Linked DNA regions of Homo sapiens: region 2 is linked to region 1. Evidence: fine-mapped expression QTL. Tissue or cell type: whole blood. Region 1 holds a variant in brackets; the other region holds the start of a gene. All regions are shown on one strand. Distances are from middle to middle.

Region 1 (8,174 bases):
AAGCGCACAGCACAGTTGATAATAAATGGCAGCTACTTTCTATCATAAGCACACGCATGACTGTGCACTTCTCAGTGCACACAGACATGGAACCATCTTTTACACTTTTCGCTCAGTATGTGGGCACCTGAGTGCACGTCTTCTGGTCAGTTGTGTGTCCTGAGGTGCATCCATGTGTGCGCGGGTGACGATCTGCCTGTGTGCACACCATGTGCCTTTGTGCATTGAGAGTGAATGGCAGGCACGCACAGGCATGTGTCTGGGTGAGCGTGTGAGGGTGCAGGGGCAGGTGTGTCCGTGTGAGGATGGGTCTTCCCGAGTGCCTCAGCTCAGTGCTGCCCTGCCGGTCCAGCCCGCCCCGCTCACCCACAATGGACAGGATGACGACCACGAAGTCAAAGATGTTCCAGCCAACGGTGAAGTAGTACTGGCGCAGGGCGAGCATCTTGAGCACGCACTCCCCTGTGAAGATGATGATGAAGATCATGTTGATGTTGTACAGGATGTCCACCTTGAGCTGGCTCTGGTTGTCTGTCTCCACCATCATGGTGACCATGTTGAGGCAGATGAGGATCATGATGGTGATGTCGAAGGCCTGCTTCGTCACGAGGTCATACACCATGCCCTGGATCTTGTTCTGCAGCATGGGTGGGAGTGGATGTGGAGGAGTTGGGGTGGCCAGGCCCAGACAGGACATGGACAGGCAGGAGGCACAGGATGGCACCACAGCATGACAGAGATGACAGAGATGACAGAGAGAGAGAGAGAGAGAGAGAGAAAGGAGGTGTTGGGGGTTGTGGTGGAGTCAGCCAGGGGAGGAGGGGTGACCCATCAGATCATGACAGGTCTGGGACCAGGTCATTTTATGGGGTTCATGGTCCTCCCTTCAAGATCCCCCAGATGCTCCTCCCCTTTCTTCCAAAGTCATTGCTCCTGGGTAGGGTGTCTGGACATCCTCCTCCTTCCACTTGTGGGAGCCCTTGCCCCAGGGGCCACTGGGGTCCCAGGTGGGAGGTAGGTGGGCACTGAGGAGCTTCGTGGGACCAAGTGAGGGTAAAGCACTCACTAGAGTTTCATGGACAGCCTCTGTGCATATGGTGTCTCTGTGGCACTACAAAGAGGCGTCCCTCCCTGCAGGTAGACCAAGTCCCCTGCCCCTGGGGTGGGCCTAACCTCACCCAGGGACACAGCCTGGTGGGTGGAAGGCAGGAAACCTTTTACCCCCATCAGTCCCCTAGGCAGGAGCCTGGCAGCACACACAGGACAGGGGGCCCAGAGGTCTGTACCTGGGGCCGGGGAATTGGCTTCTGAGGCTTCTTGGAGCCAAGCTTCTTCATGGCGTTATAGTATTTCTTCTGTTCCTCCGTCATAAAGATGTCTTTCCCCCCTAAGTATAGTGGGATAGGGCTTGTCAGGTTGAGGTGCAGTTCCCCTTCCTGCCTCCAGGACCACCCCCACCTCAGTGGGGCACCTCACCTTTAAGGCAGCCCCCGCCCCTGTTGATCAGCCTGGAGGAAGCGGGAGGGTCAGAGATGGAGGGACAAGGGGAGAATGCGGGACCGAGGAGAAGGGAGGGAAGGGGAGTGGGGATCAATGCTGTCTTGCAGCCTGTTTCTGGCTACTTTTCATCAACATCTCGCTGAGCCCTAGAGTAACCCACAAGGCAGGTTGTAGCAGCCTCGTCTTTTTTTTTGTTGTTGAGATGGAGTCTCGCTCTGTCACCAGGCTGGAGTGCAGTGGCGCGATCTTGGCCCACTGCAACCTCCATCTCCTGGGTTTAAGCGATTCTCCTGCCTCAGCCTCCTGAGTAGCTGGGATTACAGATGCCTGCCACCACGCCTGGCTAATTTCTTTTTTTAATTTTTTTTGTATTTTTAGTATAGACAGGGTTTTACCACGTTAGCCAGGGTGGTCTCGAACTCCTGACCTTGTGATCCGCCCGCCTCGGCCTCCCAAAGTGCTGGGATTACAAGCATGAGCCACCGTGCCTGGCCCAGCAGTCTCATTTTACAGATAAGGACACCGAGGTTCATGGAGGCCAAGCCACTTGTTCAAGGTGGCCTGGTGGGACTGGGACCCAAGCTAGCTGCCTGAACCAACAACCTGGTAGGTGCTCAGGCAGCGTTTGTGGGTTTGTGCAATGGAGAGTGGACAAAGGAGGCAGGAGGGAGGCCCAGCACCGGGAGGGCCCGAGGGGCTGGGCTGATACTCATCTTCTTCTTCTGCTGGTTGAAGTTGTCAATGATGACGCCAATGAAGAGGTTGAGGGTGAAGAAGGAGCCAAAGATGATGAAGATGACAAAGTAGAGGTACATGTAGAGGTTCACCTCGTACTGCGGCTGCTCCTCCTTCTGTGGGAGCCACAGGGTGGGACGGCGTGGGTTTGCACGCTGGCTTCTCCCTGCCCCCCACAGCCCTGAGGGCAGGACCCATCCACCCCCAGGGCTGCCAAGTCTCGGGGACAGAACGTGCTGCCAAGTCTCCCTCCTGTCTTGAGTCCTCTTCCCTGGCTCGCTCACCAGCCACATCTCAGCGACCCCGACTCACCTCCCGGGAGTCCACGGCTGCATACATGATGTCCATCCAACCCTTGAAGGTGGCCTGAGAGAGTGTGGTTGGGGAGTGAGCCGGGGGGCTGCTCCCTGCTTTCATCATCCATGAGTTTCCCTCCCCCACCCAACCTGGTCCTCCCCTGCCAGAGGCCGCCTGCCAGAGCCCCACTGGGCTAGCATCAAATAAAGACCAGAGAGGTCTAGACACTGCCTGGGGATCCCACAGCATTGGAAGCAGGGTGGGCGGTCCCCTAACCAGGAGTGACACTGGGGTTGGGTACAACGAGAGGACCGGGGTGGGGGGCACCTCCATCCAGGTTCCCGGCAGGGGTGGTGGGTCACACTCACCACCTGCAGGAGGGAGAGGTAGCCCAGACCCACGTTGTCGTAGTTGACCTTGACATTGAGCCAGCGGACCTGGCCTGTGTGCATGAGGCTCTCGCACTCAGACTTGTTGTTGACCTCGGAGATGTCGAACCTCTCAGAGGTGGTGGTGTTGATGCAGTAGTAGAACTTGCCGGCAAACAGGTTGACACCCATGATGCTGAAGATCAGCCAGAAGATGAGGCAGACAAGCAGCACATTCATGATGGAGGGGATGGCGCCTAGGAGGGCGTTCACCACCACCTGGGGGCCAGGGGGTCCATTGCCAGTGCCTCTCCCAGCCTCTGAGAGAGGGCTCCACATCTCTACGCCACCCAGGGGACCAGGCAGAGCTGGGCATTGTCAATTAGGGAGGGCTTCCTAGAGGAGGGCCGACCTGCTGGGCTGTGTGTGTGCAGGTTGGGGGTGGTAAGGGGGAGGGGGAGGGAGCTGCAGGCCTGGTGGTCAAGAGGGCTCTCTGCTTGACTGGAGCCATCAGCCCAGAGTAGGGGTGCTGGGTTTCTCTGGAAGCAGCCTGGTCACAGGTCACCAGGCAGGAGACAAACACTCTTTGCTCAGCCCCCATAGGAAACTCAGCTCACGTGACCCAGCCCCTGCTCATGGGTTTTCAGCCCCAGAGCCCCAGACACAGGCACAGAAAAGAGGGCACCAGGGTCTTTGAAGCAGCAGGAGCTCTGGGACAGAAGCCCCATCCCCACCAGCCCTAGTCACACAGCCCACCTGACCACTGCAGACTGGGCTGGATCTGACACCCCTCTCTTTTTAAGGAGGAGCCATTTCATGACCTCTAGAGTGGGTGGCACAAGCCTGGTGTGCCCAGGGGAGCTCTGTTCCTGGTTGGGGCACTGACCAGCTGCATGGCCACAGGCAGCTTGTTTCCCCTCAACGGGAGGGCTCCCTGGCTCTGGGGGGTCAGAGGGCCCAGCATTCGGCTGGCCTCTTGCAGGGACAGGAAGGGGCCGCTTGGGGGGGCTCGCCATGGCCTCTAGATTTGCAGAAATTTGTCCCGCTGGAGCAGGTCTTGCTCCCAGCAGATCTCTCTTCCTGGGGAAGTCCCATTTTTCTTGCCCCCCCCCCCACCCCGCCGCAACCCTGTGTTTACCTGCCACTTCCGCTCTCCAGGGCCTGAGTGGATCTTCCCCAAACTGACCCCAAGCTCAAGGGCATGGCCCCAACCGTGACGCCAAGCTCATCAGTGGGGGGTGAGGGGAAGGCTCAGAGCCAGGGTGCAGGCACCTTGTTTCAAAGCCCTGGGTGGCTCAGTCTGAGGCTGGGGAGGGCCACCCATAAACCCACTCATAAACCACCCATAAACACCACATAAACCTGCCTTCCTTCCTCCTCTTCCCTGGCCGTGGGGCCCTCCTGGGTGCTTCTGCAGTCTCTGCTCCCCTCAAGTAGTGGCAGAGGTAAGCTAAGGGCGGGCTGGATCGGGGGCTGAGAGTGGGAATGGGGCAGGCAGAAGATGGCCTGCGGGGAGGACAGCTAGGGGAGGTGGGGGCCAGACCTGGCCTCAGGCAGGGCCGTGGGTCCAAGCTCTCTGCTTC[C/T]CTCTGGTGGTGGTTGGAGTATAGACATGCACCCTCCACCCTGCAGTGAAGGTGGCCGGTCCCCCATCCCCAGCCCACCCCAGAGGCCCCTTCAGCACCCACCCTCATGCCCTCGAATCGGGACAGTGCCCTCAGGGGACGCAGGGCCCGCAGTGTCCGCAGGGATTTGATGGGTCCCAGCTCCGAGTAGCCCAGCCAGTTGGCCACCAAGCTGATGATGGAGACCTGCAGGGGAGGGGTGAGGGGATCAGTGCGTGCAAGGCCCCCAGCCTCCCCTCAAGCCCAGGCCACGGGGGTCTTCCTGGACTCACAGCTCCTGGTTGTCTCCCTTAGATCCCCTCCCTAGTGGGTGGTCCTGTCCGGTGGGAAGAGCAGCCCTGGGACCTGTCCCAGTACCTGTAGGAGCCTGGCACCACCTCAGTGATGTCATCAACCAACTGGGGATGACTGTGAGTAGGAGGGATGGTACCCGACTCCTTCGGGGAGGCCTGTGAGCCCATCTAAGAGGCTAAGAAAATCCTCCATTCCTGGCCGGGCATGGTGGCTCACACCTGTAATCCCAGCACTTTGGGAGGCCAAGGTAGGAGGATTGCTTGAGCCCAGGAGTTCAAGACCAGCCTGGGCAACATAGCAAGATCCCATCTTAAAAATAAATAAATAAAATGTATGAAGTAAGAAACTCCTCCACTCCTATTGGCAGGGATGGTAAGTAGCCCTCCTGCCTGCTGTCTTCCCCCAAGGCCTCCTTTCCCTGAGGAGAAGGGAAGGCCTCCCAGTCCCTAACCCCTCCCTGGGCAGCTCTGTCTGAGAAGGGCAGCACTGATTGAGGGTCTGACTCTGGGGGTGGCCTCGGGCAGGTCCTGCCCTTCAGGGCGTGGGCTTCCTGAGGTCCCCGCCACACTGACAGCCTCTGGATGTAGCTACGGGGCCAGCGTGGGGGGACTCACATCCACGATGAGGAAGTCGAGCCAGCACCAGGCGTTGGTGAAGTACACCTTAAAGCCGTAGGCCACCCATTTGAGCAGCATCTCCATGATGAAGATGTAGGTGAAGACCTTGTCGGCATATTCTAGGATGGTGCGAATGACTCGCCGCTGCTCAATGTAGATGTCCTCGAAGGCCTGGGGGCACCAGCACCACCAGGGTGGCTGGGGTCCAGCAGGCTGGGGTGGCAGCCAGGTCCCCTGCCCTGCTCTATGCTGCTGGTTCCCGGGGGTCTGCCGTGGGGGCCCAGCCCAAGGGACAGGCTGTCCGCATCTCCTGGACTCCCACCACCCATCATGGGGATGAGAGCGTTTCCCAGTGGGGAGAATCCCTCAGCCCCCCTTCTCCAAGCCCAACAACAGCAAATTGCCATCATCTGCTGGGCAGGTCCACAGTGACACATCTTCAGTCCTGCGCCCCCAGTTCCCAGGGGTCTCCTGCCTCCTTATCAGCAGAGAGTGCACAAAAGTCAGCACCCACGTAATAAGGGAGGCACCTCTGCCATGTTAGAAAGTCAGCACATCCTATAACCTATCCCGGAGGCACAGCGAGTTCCTTTAGGATTCTCAGGGTTTGGGACTGACCAGAGCATGGCCCTTCCTGTGTGTGGAGACAGGGAGCCCCAAGAGGACCTGCTGTGGGCCTGGCCCCTGCCCCTGACCCGTGCTCCCAGGCAGTGCCTACCAGAGCCCCACTGCTGAGCAGGATCATGAAGACAATGAAGGTCTCGAACCAGTTGTGCTCGACAATCTTGAAGCAGGCCCTGCGCAGAGTCCACCACTTCTTCCCACGGCCCTGGGAGATGTCCACGTAGAGGCAGGGCCAGCGCTGCACGCAGGCTGATGGGGTGAGGGGGGACAGGGACAGGCACCACATCATGGGCCTGGGGTTGCCTTGGGGTGCACAGTCAGCGCCCTCCCATGGCATCCCAGGATGCCCCTCTCCAGCTCCCAGACCCAGGGCCCCCACCTCCTCCCTCACCCAGCTCCATCTGGCTCACATGGGGGACTCAGGACCTCCCTTCACAGCTGGATCCAACATGCGTCAATGGCTGCTGGGGATGGGCATGCAGAGGAAAGGCCTCCTGGCCCCCAGCCCCAGTGCTGCCCCACCCCCCACCTCGCCCAGGCGGTCTCCATCCTGCACAGCCCAGCAAGCTCTATGGACAAGGACATTTCTCCAGTGCCATGTCCTGAAGGCCTTGCTCCCTGAAGATGGAGGGGAGGATCTCAGGAGCTGACACCCACACTCCTGCACGTTGGCTCCAAGCTAGGTCTGCACCAAGGGCTCTGCATGGATCTTGCACCACAGTTCTGGGCATGCACTGCCACCACCCCTAGACACGTGAGGCACGGGGATGGCCAGGCAGCCCCAGGTCCGTGTGCTTTTGGTCCTGGTGTAGCCTGCCCCTTGCAGGGGCTGCAGGCCTGGGGGAGACACCCAGATGAGGTGAGGGGTGCCCTCACCCTCAGTGAAGCACTCCTCAGGCTGCTCCCCCTCGGGGTTCTCCTCTGCCTGCTCCTCAGGGTCCTCCTCGGGGGGCTTGTAGTCAGCTGTGCTGCAGACGGACGAGTTCCCATCATAGAGAGGCTGCGGCGGCTTCTGCGGAGGCCACAGGGTCACATGACATCTGGGTCCCTGAGAGACCCCCTCATCCTCCTACCAGATGGGGCAGGATGGGAGACCAGAAGGGAAGGGAAGAAGAGAGGGAGGAGCAAACTCATCCATTCATTCATTCATCCAGCCCTGGATGGTCGAGGAACCACGGGGACGTAGGTGGCCCTGGTCATGCCCGCATGACACTTATATAAGGAGTGGGGCGGGGCTGATGCCTGGGAAGGGACGGTAAGGGCATGAGGACACATGCGAAGGCCTCAGATAAGGGAGGAGGCGGGGACCCCGGCCCGAGTGGGGGGTCTGGGAGGCATGGGGGGCCTGAAGGTAGCTCTGAGGGGGCAGGGGTATGAAAAGGGGTCAGGATGGAGCCAGGCTATCACAGCCCTCAGAACATGGGCGTGTGGTGCCCCTAGCGTCTGAGCCTTCCCACCCGCAGGGTCTGTTTGGCTGAGGAATCCAGAAAGGGTGGAAAATGTTCCCCAGCCAAAGCCTCCATCCAGTGCCAAGGGAACCTGATCAGTGTTGGGAGCGGGAGTGGGGGAGGCGGGTGCTCCAGCCGGGCCAGGCTTCCTCCCACCTCCTCCTGCTGGGCCAGGCCAGCTTCCCGGCCCCAGACTCCACCCGGCAGGGGACCCCTTCAAGGCTGAGGGTGAGGCCTCTGAAGAGAAGGAAGAAGAGGGCAACTTGGGGGGCAGCTCTGTATCCAGAGTGGTGACCAGAAAACCACCATGGCCGGGGTGGGGGTCCTTGTTTTCATTAGACTAAAAGGGAAACTGAGGCACAGAGTGTTAGGTCAGCCAGGGCATCCACTGAGTTGCTTGCCCCGATTGTGCACTCAACTCCCTAAATCTCCCTTGGAGTTGTGCTCGCCCTCCTTGAACAAGTCCCCAGGCCCCGGCCCCGGCCCCGGGGAGCCTGGGACTTTGGTGCTCTCCAGCTCCCCCGCCACCTGAGTGCCTCATACCGAGGTCTGTGCCACAGTTGCCTGGGTATTTATAGCTCACAGGCACTCGCTTCCTGGTAAGCCAGCATATTTGGGGGGAATAAGGAGTCAAAAGCTTTCAGGGCAAAGTTCATTAGGCTCAGGCTG
Region 2 (8,174 bases), 26 kb after region 1:
TTTATGTATTTATTTAGAGAGAGTCTCATTCTGTCACCCAGGCTGGAATGCAGTGGCGTGATCTTGGCTCACTGCAACCTCTGCCTCCTGGGTTCAAGTGATTCTCCTGCCTCAGCCTCCCAAGTAGCTGGGATTACAGGTGCATGCCACCACACCCAGCTCATTTTTTTGGTACTTTTAGTAGGGATGAGGTTTCGCTATGTTGGACAGGCTGGTCTCGAACTCCTGGCCTCAAGTAATCAGCCTGCCTCAGCCTCCCAAAATGCTGGGATTACAGGCATGAGCCACCTCACCTGGCCTATTAAACAAAAACTTTAATCCCACGTATCCTTAACATATTTGACCACAGAACCCTTTTCCTTAAAATGCCTAGTAGCACCCGAGGAACAGCAGAAGCTCTAGACTGAACTTGAAACATCATTATATTCTTTAGACAGACAAAGGCATAAACGATGCTGAAATAATCCCAGGGGCAGGTTCCCATCACCTGTGGAAGAGCCGTAACTTCTTCCTTGGGCCTAATCGTAGTGCCTCTTGCGTTAATATGACTTCATTTCCTTTTCTTATCCTGATATGGAAAACAAATGCTCGGCAGCCTCCTTATAAAAGCCCTCCTGCGCCCCGAGGATGCTGGCAGCTGGCACAGAGGAAAGGCAATGCCGTCTTGGCTCAGTGGCCAATGTACAGTGTGGAATTTGGGAAGTGCTTCCTCTCCTGGGTCTCACACCTTCCTCGGCTGCAGTCAGAGGGCTTTAGACTAGAAGATAGCTCAGGTACTTTCTTTCTTACTTTCTTTTCTTTTCTTTTCTTTTTTTTTTGAGATAGAGTCTCGCTCTGTCGCCCAGGCTGGAGTGCAGTGGTGTGATCTCGGCTCACTGCAACTTCTGCCTCCTCGATTCAAGTGATTCTCCTGCTCAGCCTCCCAGGTAGCTGGGATTACAGGCACATGCCACCACGCCCAGCTAATTTTTGTATTTTGAGTAGAGACGGGGTTTCACCACGTTGGCCAGGCTGGTCTCAGAGTCCTGACCCCAAGTGATTCACCTGTCTCGGCCTCCCAAAGTGCTGGGATTACAGGTATGGGCCACCACACCTGGCCTCAGGTACTTTCTCATATTAGGATTTAACAATTTTCCCTCTTCCCAGAGCCTGATCTCTATCCTTTTTCTTTCTCTCCTTTACTGGGAGAGAATCTCCAGTTTCTCCACATGCTCTTTTGCAGGTCTGAATGTTCGGATTCTATTGATTTCATGCTTGTTGATGCATTACTTTGGAATTGCTCTGACCTTATTGCTCAGCAGGTGCCTGGTGTGTTCCTAATTGAGCTCTCAGAGCTTGGACTTTTCCTCATGGAGCCTTTTTGTGTCTCTCTCTTCTCTGCTCTGTCTGCTTATTTTATTGAGCACACACGTGTATATCACAAACCATGGGCCAGGGGCTGTGAGGGCCTTACAGATATTAAGGCATTTAATCCTTACAACAATCCAAGGAGTGGTACTATGAGTCTCCATATGCCACAGATAAGGAAACTGAGACATGGACAGGGCGAGGCACTTGCCCAAAGTTAAAGTTAGGAAGTGGTAAAGGTGAGAATTGAACCCAGGCAGTCAGGCTCCAGAATCTGTGCTTTTTTCTTTTGAGACAGAGTCTTGTTCTTTTTCCCAGGCTGGAGTGCAGTGGCAAAATTACAGCTCATAGCAGGCTTGATCTCCTGGGCTCAAACTATCCTCCCGCCTTAGCCTCCCAAGTAGCTGGGACTATAGGAGAGCATAACCAGGCCCAGCTAATTTGTTTTCTTTTTTTTTTTTGAGATGGAATCTCACTGTGTTGCCTAGGCTGGAGTGCAGTGGCGTGATCTCGGCTGACTGCCACCTCTGTTTCCCAGGTTCAAGTGATTCTCCTGCCTCAGCCTCCTGAGTAGATGGGACTACAGGTGCACACCACCATGCCAGGCTAATTTTTGTATTTTTAGTAGAGACAGGGTTTTGTCTTGTTGGCCAGGCTGGTCTCAAACTCCTGACCTTAGTTGATCCACTTGCCTTGGCCTCCCAAAGTGCTGGGATTATAGGCGTGAGCCACCATGCCCAGCTGAGTCTGTGCTCTTAACCAACTTGCCATGCTGCCTCTCAAACGCCCATCCTTCCATGTAGGACCCCATCTGCCCTCTGGTCACGTGGGCCCCTGTATGTCCAGGCTTTGCTGTGAGTTCTACAAAAACACCAGCCTGGGAGTGTTGTGACACTGAGTCAGGTTCCAGGCCTGCACATGGTACGGGGGTCTCTCAGCTCAGGCAGAGGGTCCCTGCACCTCCCCAGTACCTGGGATGACCGTGATGGTTTTGAGGGCCCGCAGCACCCGGAAGGTCCTCAGGGCTGAGATGTTGCCCAAGTCCACAAACTCTGTCAGGTACCTGGGTAGGGGGTGGAGGGGGGTGGGGACTGTCAGAGCCTGGGGTGGGTGGTAGGACAGAAATCAGGGCTCCTCCAGGCCTGGGATGAGGATTCCCAAGAAATTGGGGGTACCACAGGGTCTGGGGGGCAGGGCAGACACCCCCAAAGCTCCTCTGGGAGCCCAAGGGTTGGGAAGGACAGTGCAGGAGCTCTGGGGGAGTGGGGATGGCAAAGATAGCCCGGCTCACCCAGCAGGTGAGGACCCATGGGTCTGTGGGTCAGGGCTGCCTCATGTGATTATCAGGAGTCCATCAGGAGAGTGCTGAGCCAGACCCTGAGAATGGCAGCTTCTAGAATTGTGCAGCTCCCCATCTGCACAACTGACCGATGTCCCCTGCAGCCCTCAGCCCAGGCAGCTTCCCTCTTTAAGGCCTGGCCCCCTCCCCTCACCCACCCCAGCCTCAGGATGTCCTGGGGCCCCTGCTCACGCCATCATGATGACACTGAAGTCCAGCCAGTTCCAGGGGTCCCGGAGGAATGTGAAGTCGTCGACACAGAAGCCTCGGGCCAGTATCTTGATGAGGGACTCAAAGGTGTAGATCCCTGTGAAGGTGTACCTGGGGGGGAGAGGGCCGGCCGGGACAGGCATGTCACCTGGGTAGGGGTCAGTGTGGCAACGACAGACCCCCAGAAGGGAGGGACACAGAAATGAAATATGCCACTCAGGTGGCTAAGGACACTAGCGAGTGATAGCATGGCCACCCCAGGGACTCAAGGTGTGGATGAGGGTCACAATGACAGTGTGTCTCCCTGAAAGACAAGAGCAGCACCACACAGAGGTGCAAACACCTGAGATGGGCTGTGTCCCAGGGCTGGGGAGCTCAGGGAGCAGGGAGACTTACTCCACATTCTTGGACCAGGGAGGCGGGTCACTCATGGTCATGAATACGCAGTTGGTCAAGATGGTGATCATGATGAACATGCTGAACAGCGTGGGGCAGGGTCAAGGAAAGTGAGGAAGCAGCTAGGATGGGAGGTGATAGAGGGTCTCCTGGGCCACAGCACCCCATCTCGCCCATCCCTAACCCCTCCCGCCTCTCCCATCTTGGGCAGGATATGCATGGATGAGCACCTTGATGGCCCCGCGCCTGACTACGCTGAAGGGGCTCAGCAGGTAGAGAGCAGGTGTGGCGGAGAAGCGGAAGATGGCCTTGCCCTTGTTGAGTACGATGAAGGTCTAAGGTGGGAGAGAGGCTGTGAGACCCAGGGACAGACAGACAGGCAGACAGATGGATGGATGGCAGACAGACAGAGGAAGCCTTCCCAGGCCCAGACCTTCTTATTGCTGTAGTAGGGATCCAGGTCCTCCAGGGGGATGCCGATGACCTCCGGCGGGGGGTCTCCGTAGATCATGGGTAGGTTCTTGCCAGCCTCCAAGTCACTTCGTGGCTTCCGTTCGGGCTCCTCAATCTCCATCTGCTTATTCCGCTGCAGCCGGGCCTCCTCCTCCACCGCCCGCTGTTCTATGGCTGCCAGTGACTCCCGGGTGAAGGGGCGCAAGCACTCAGGGCCCAGAGGCACCAGGGTGCACAGAGATGGTCTGGCCATCCTCGCATCCTGGGCTCAGAGACCAGAAGGGTGGTGGGTGGCCTGGGGAGCTGCAGTGCGCAGCCCCGGGGTGCTGGGCGGCCGCCCCTCCCTGGGCGGGCCGTCCACTCCTCACCTCCTGCTTGCCCAGTGGCCGAGCCGGGGAGGTGGGCGTGCAGACTCTATCAGGACTGGGAGATGTGCCTGCAAGGTGCTGCTGCTGCACAGGTGCTGGGCACAGAGCATCACCCCTGGCCCCCCCACCACACTTTCCCCAGAAGTGGCAGCGGCTGCCCTCAGGACCGACGGCAAACCAACCAGATTCTTTGTGGCCTTGGGACTTGGGGTCAACACCCCAGTGCCTTCGACTGCCTCCTGGGCCCAAGCTCCGGGAACTGTGTGGCTTCAGCCTAATGGGACAGAGAGAGAACCACAGCTGGCTGTGCTCAGGCGACCTCTGGATAGGCCAGGATGAGGGGCCTGGTTGGGGGGTTAGATCAAAGTGGGACTGGCACAGGGACTTCACCCTGAGGGCCGACGTGGATCCTGATATTGGCCACCTGGAGATGTAGGTGGAGACCATGAAGGTGGCAGCCAGGCTCTGTGCAAAAAGGTTGCTGTGATTGATTAGTGATGTCTGCCAGGGGCGCAAGGAGGAAGACCGTGGTGCCTCTGCCTGTGTTTGCCATCCCTGGCCTGGAGGGAAGGGAAAAGAAAGATGGGGGTGGGTGTGGATTCCTCTTTCCTGATCTTTGGGGTACTTGGTGTTGGGCTGGGAGAGGGAAGAAGAAAGGGCCCTGGGCCCGGCAGGGGTCTCCTAGCAGTTCCCTCCCACAGCCCTGGGGGCTCTAGCCCACTGGGCAGGCAGGGTGAACTGGGAGAGGAACATTGCATCTGGAGAGCTGCAGGTGCTAACGTGGAAGAGAAGACGTACAGGGAAGGTCACAGGGACAAGGAGATGGACAACTCCAATGGTGGGGGCAGGGCTAGAGCTCCTGGGGACTGCTTTTGGCTGGTGGTCCCAGCACAAGCTGGATTGGGGGAAGGGGCATCCACAAGGAGCCTTTGATGCCTGTGAGCATTGTGTGGTCTGGGCCCCACCTGGCCCCTCTCCCCTTCTGCCCAGCCCTCCAGAGCCTATTCCTGTGGAAGGGAAGGGGGATCACTTATTGCAAATGGCCCTGGGGGAATGACCACATCAGCAGGCAGTTGCAGTGAGACCCCTGCAGACCAGCTGCAGGCAGCCACTGCCAGACCCACATGGACAGACCTGGAGCCACCCCTGCACCACAGGGACCTGGACAGACCCCTAGAGACCCCCAAAGCCACACCTGAGGGTGGACCTCTCCCAGTGGGCCTTGACCCTTGCAGCAGCGCCCCTGCCCTGGTCAGCACGGGCGCTTCTCAGGCTTGCTCAACAGGTGGGGAGGGTGGCCAGGGAGAGGCCAGAGCCACTGGGCAGAGCTGGCCACGCCCTTGTGCCTGGCTCCCAGCTGCTCCTTACAGCACCCAGGGAGTCGTGTTTCCACGGGGATGACTCTGCTTATTCCTGCCAACCCTGCCCTCAGCTGCTCACTGGCCCCTGTCGTGAGCGTGGGCGTGCATGTGCACACACTTGCACACACAGGCACATGCACGCACACCCGGCCTGGAGCCACCCCACATGCAGACCTTCCCAGTTGCATCTCACAGCTCTGTCATATACCTTGCCACCTTCCTCCCCATCACCCACTCCACGTACACCCCCACATGCTGCTTGTCACTACACAGAAGGCGCCAACCAGCCAGATGGCCTTGAAGAGACCCCAGGGCTGCTGTGCACCCACCCAGTCTGCAGTCCCTGCTGTGATGATCCTCCTGTCCTGATACTGCTCACTCTTTTCATTACACGAGCCCAAGTAGGGCCACAAAAGCCCACAGACACATAGTCTGGCTCCCAACCCCAGCACTCGAGGAAATGACTCTCACCTGAGTCACCAGAGCTCCCCAGGGGACAGATCCAGTGTTTTCTTCCCCGCTGGCCCTCCTGAGCTTCCCACACCGCACACCGCCTTTCTTCTTGGGAGCAGGACATCACCTGTGCGTCCGGCCACTCTCCCCAGCTCTGCTCTGGGACCTGCCCCTTCCCTGCCCCTGGAAGATGCTTCTTCTCTGGGGCCTGCTCTGCAGCCTGTTTTCTTTGCACAGCGTACACCTCTCCCTTCAAAATGTTCACTTCCTCCTAATTTCCTCTTCTCCTACTCCTCCATTACCCCTGAGGTCTGGCTGTTTTGTAATGTGAGGGGAGGAATGTCCTCACTGGTTCCACTTGCTGAAGCTGGCTTTGGTTGGTGGCTGCCCGAAGCATCATGGTGGTAGATCTGGCCAGTTCCACACCCTACTGATGCTCCCTCTCCAGTGTCACTGCCCTCTCCACCCTCCACCCCTCACCTGTTCTGTTCAAATAACCTCCCCGCGTGGTGACATGCTCCTGTAGTCCCAGCTACGAAGGCAGGAGGATCCCTTAAGCTCAGGAGTTCGAGGCTGCAGTGAGCCATGATGGTGCCACTGTCCTCCAGCCTGGGTGACAGAGTGAGACCCTGTCTCAAAAACCAACCAAAGAAACACCTCCCACCAGGCTCTCCCCTAGACTGCCATAAATATTTGTAAAGTCACAAATTTCACCCCCTGCTTAAATCTTCAATGGCTTTCCACTGCTTAGGAGTACGTCCTAAGCCCTACCCAGGGCTCCCAAGGCCCTCCATGATCAGATCCCTGCCTCATTGCCTACCCTTCCCGCATCCTCTGGCCATGCTACCTCCATTTTCACAAATGGGCCAAGCTGTTTTCCACCCCCCTGCCCTAACCCCCATGCCTTTGCTTGTGGTTTGCTCTCCTCCCAGAGCACCCATCTTCTTTGTCTCCCTGGAGAGCTTCCATTCATCTTTCTAGACTCAACCCACACAAGAACCACCTCCTCCAGGAAGCCCTCCCTGGGTACCCTGGCTGGGTGGAACTCTCCCCTTGTTTGTGTCACCAGCTCAATAAAAGTTTATCAAATGAATAAGTGAGTGAATCACAGGGACACTCTACCTTAGCTCTTTTCTCCTTTAAGCATACCCTGAACCTAAATCATAACCAGAAACCATATCTCCTCTGAAATCACCACTTCAAACTCTTCCTTTGCCCCTGCCACCTTCTCAGCTCCTGGCTCAGGGGCCCGGTTGCTATAATCTTTGGGCACTTTCAGTTCTTTGACCCTGCACTTTCTCCCTTTCCACCTGCTTCTGACTTCATGTCCCTCCTCATCTAGGCTTACTTAGAAGATCATCATTCTGGTCCCTCCTCCACAGCTCCCAGGGAGAGATCCCAGAAGGAGGGATCTCTCTCCTTCTATCACACAGTCCTGGGGAACCCCTAACTGCATGTCCCCAGCTCTGGTTTTCCAAAGTCAGCCCCGAGCTGGAGAAATGTGGCTGGGGAAATGGTATGACTAGGCTGAGCTCACCGTAAATTCATGGTCACATATTCTGGGTTTGTCCTCAATCCTGCCAGCCCTGTAGTGTGGATTTTTCTGGTAGGCTCACTTTTCCACTTTTTGAAAACAACTATTTCATGCCTTCTCCTCTTTCCTCAGACCTCCGCGCTCCTCCCCATGAGCCTCCCAGCTGATGGTCTTCCCTGAGGAAGGAAGAACCACTACACACACACTGTCAAATCCACAGAACCATCTCCCCATCCCACCCCGTCTTCCTCTATCCTGTTAGAATAATAATAAGAAGCAAGGGTCAGGCTTTCCTGGGGCTCAGGACCCCAGCCCCTCTTGCTTCTCAAAGACCTCTCCAGGTGCCCTCTCTCTACTGCCCATCCACCTCTCCCCATCTGTGAACAGACTCTAGTGTCCCCCACTTTAAAAACAATGGCAGTGGTGACAAAACTATTCTCCTGGCCCCACACCTCCCTGCATCTATTGCCCTATTTTTCTTTCCTCTTCACAGTAAAACTTCTTGGAAAGTGTCTACACCAGCTGTCTTGACTTCCTTACCTTTCATTCTCTCTCCAATCCATTCCAACCTGGCTTCCGTTTCCCCTTCAACTGAAACTACTTTTGTCAAGTCACTAACACCCTCCCTGCTGCCAAGTCCAGTGAACACGCTTCTGTCCTCAGCTCCCAGAGCCTCTCAGAAGCATGCAGCCCAGTTGGCCACAGCCCCTTTC

What was found. PIP is the estimated chance that this variant, and not a neighbour inherited with it, causes the effect.
Region 2: SCN4A starts here. The variant in region 1 is the best candidate, but not a certain one, in a credible set for the expression of SCN4A in whole blood (TOPMed, PIP 0.67).

The regions. Positions count from the first base shown.
Region 1 is chr17:63,942,460-63,950,633 of GRCh38, forward strand. It overlaps SCN4A (sodium voltage-gated channel alpha subunit 4), which reads right to left. Exons shown (of 24, transcript NM_000334.4): 15 at 6,934-7,069; 16 at 6,152-6,306; 17 at 5,431-5,604; 18 at 4,586-4,708; 19 at 2,901-3,179; 20 at 2,548-2,601; 21 at 2,214-2,351; 22 at 1,287-1,391; 23 at 367-637. Among named protein-coding and RNA genes, the nearest start is that of CD79B, 14 kb to the left of the region's middle. RefSeq lists an insulator at 3,394-8,174 and enhancers at 4,029-4,602, 6,240-6,821, 6,822-7,401. The variant C/T (reference allele first, on the strand shown) is at 4,484.
Region 2 is chr17:63,968,844-63,977,017 of GRCh38, forward strand. It overlaps SCN4A (sodium voltage-gated channel alpha subunit 4), which reads right to left and starts at 4,075. Exons shown (of 24, transcript NM_000334.4): 1 at 3,726-4,075; 2 at 3,509-3,627; 3 at 3,293-3,382; 4 at 2,879-3,007; 5 at 2,319-2,410. The coding sequence starts at 3,998.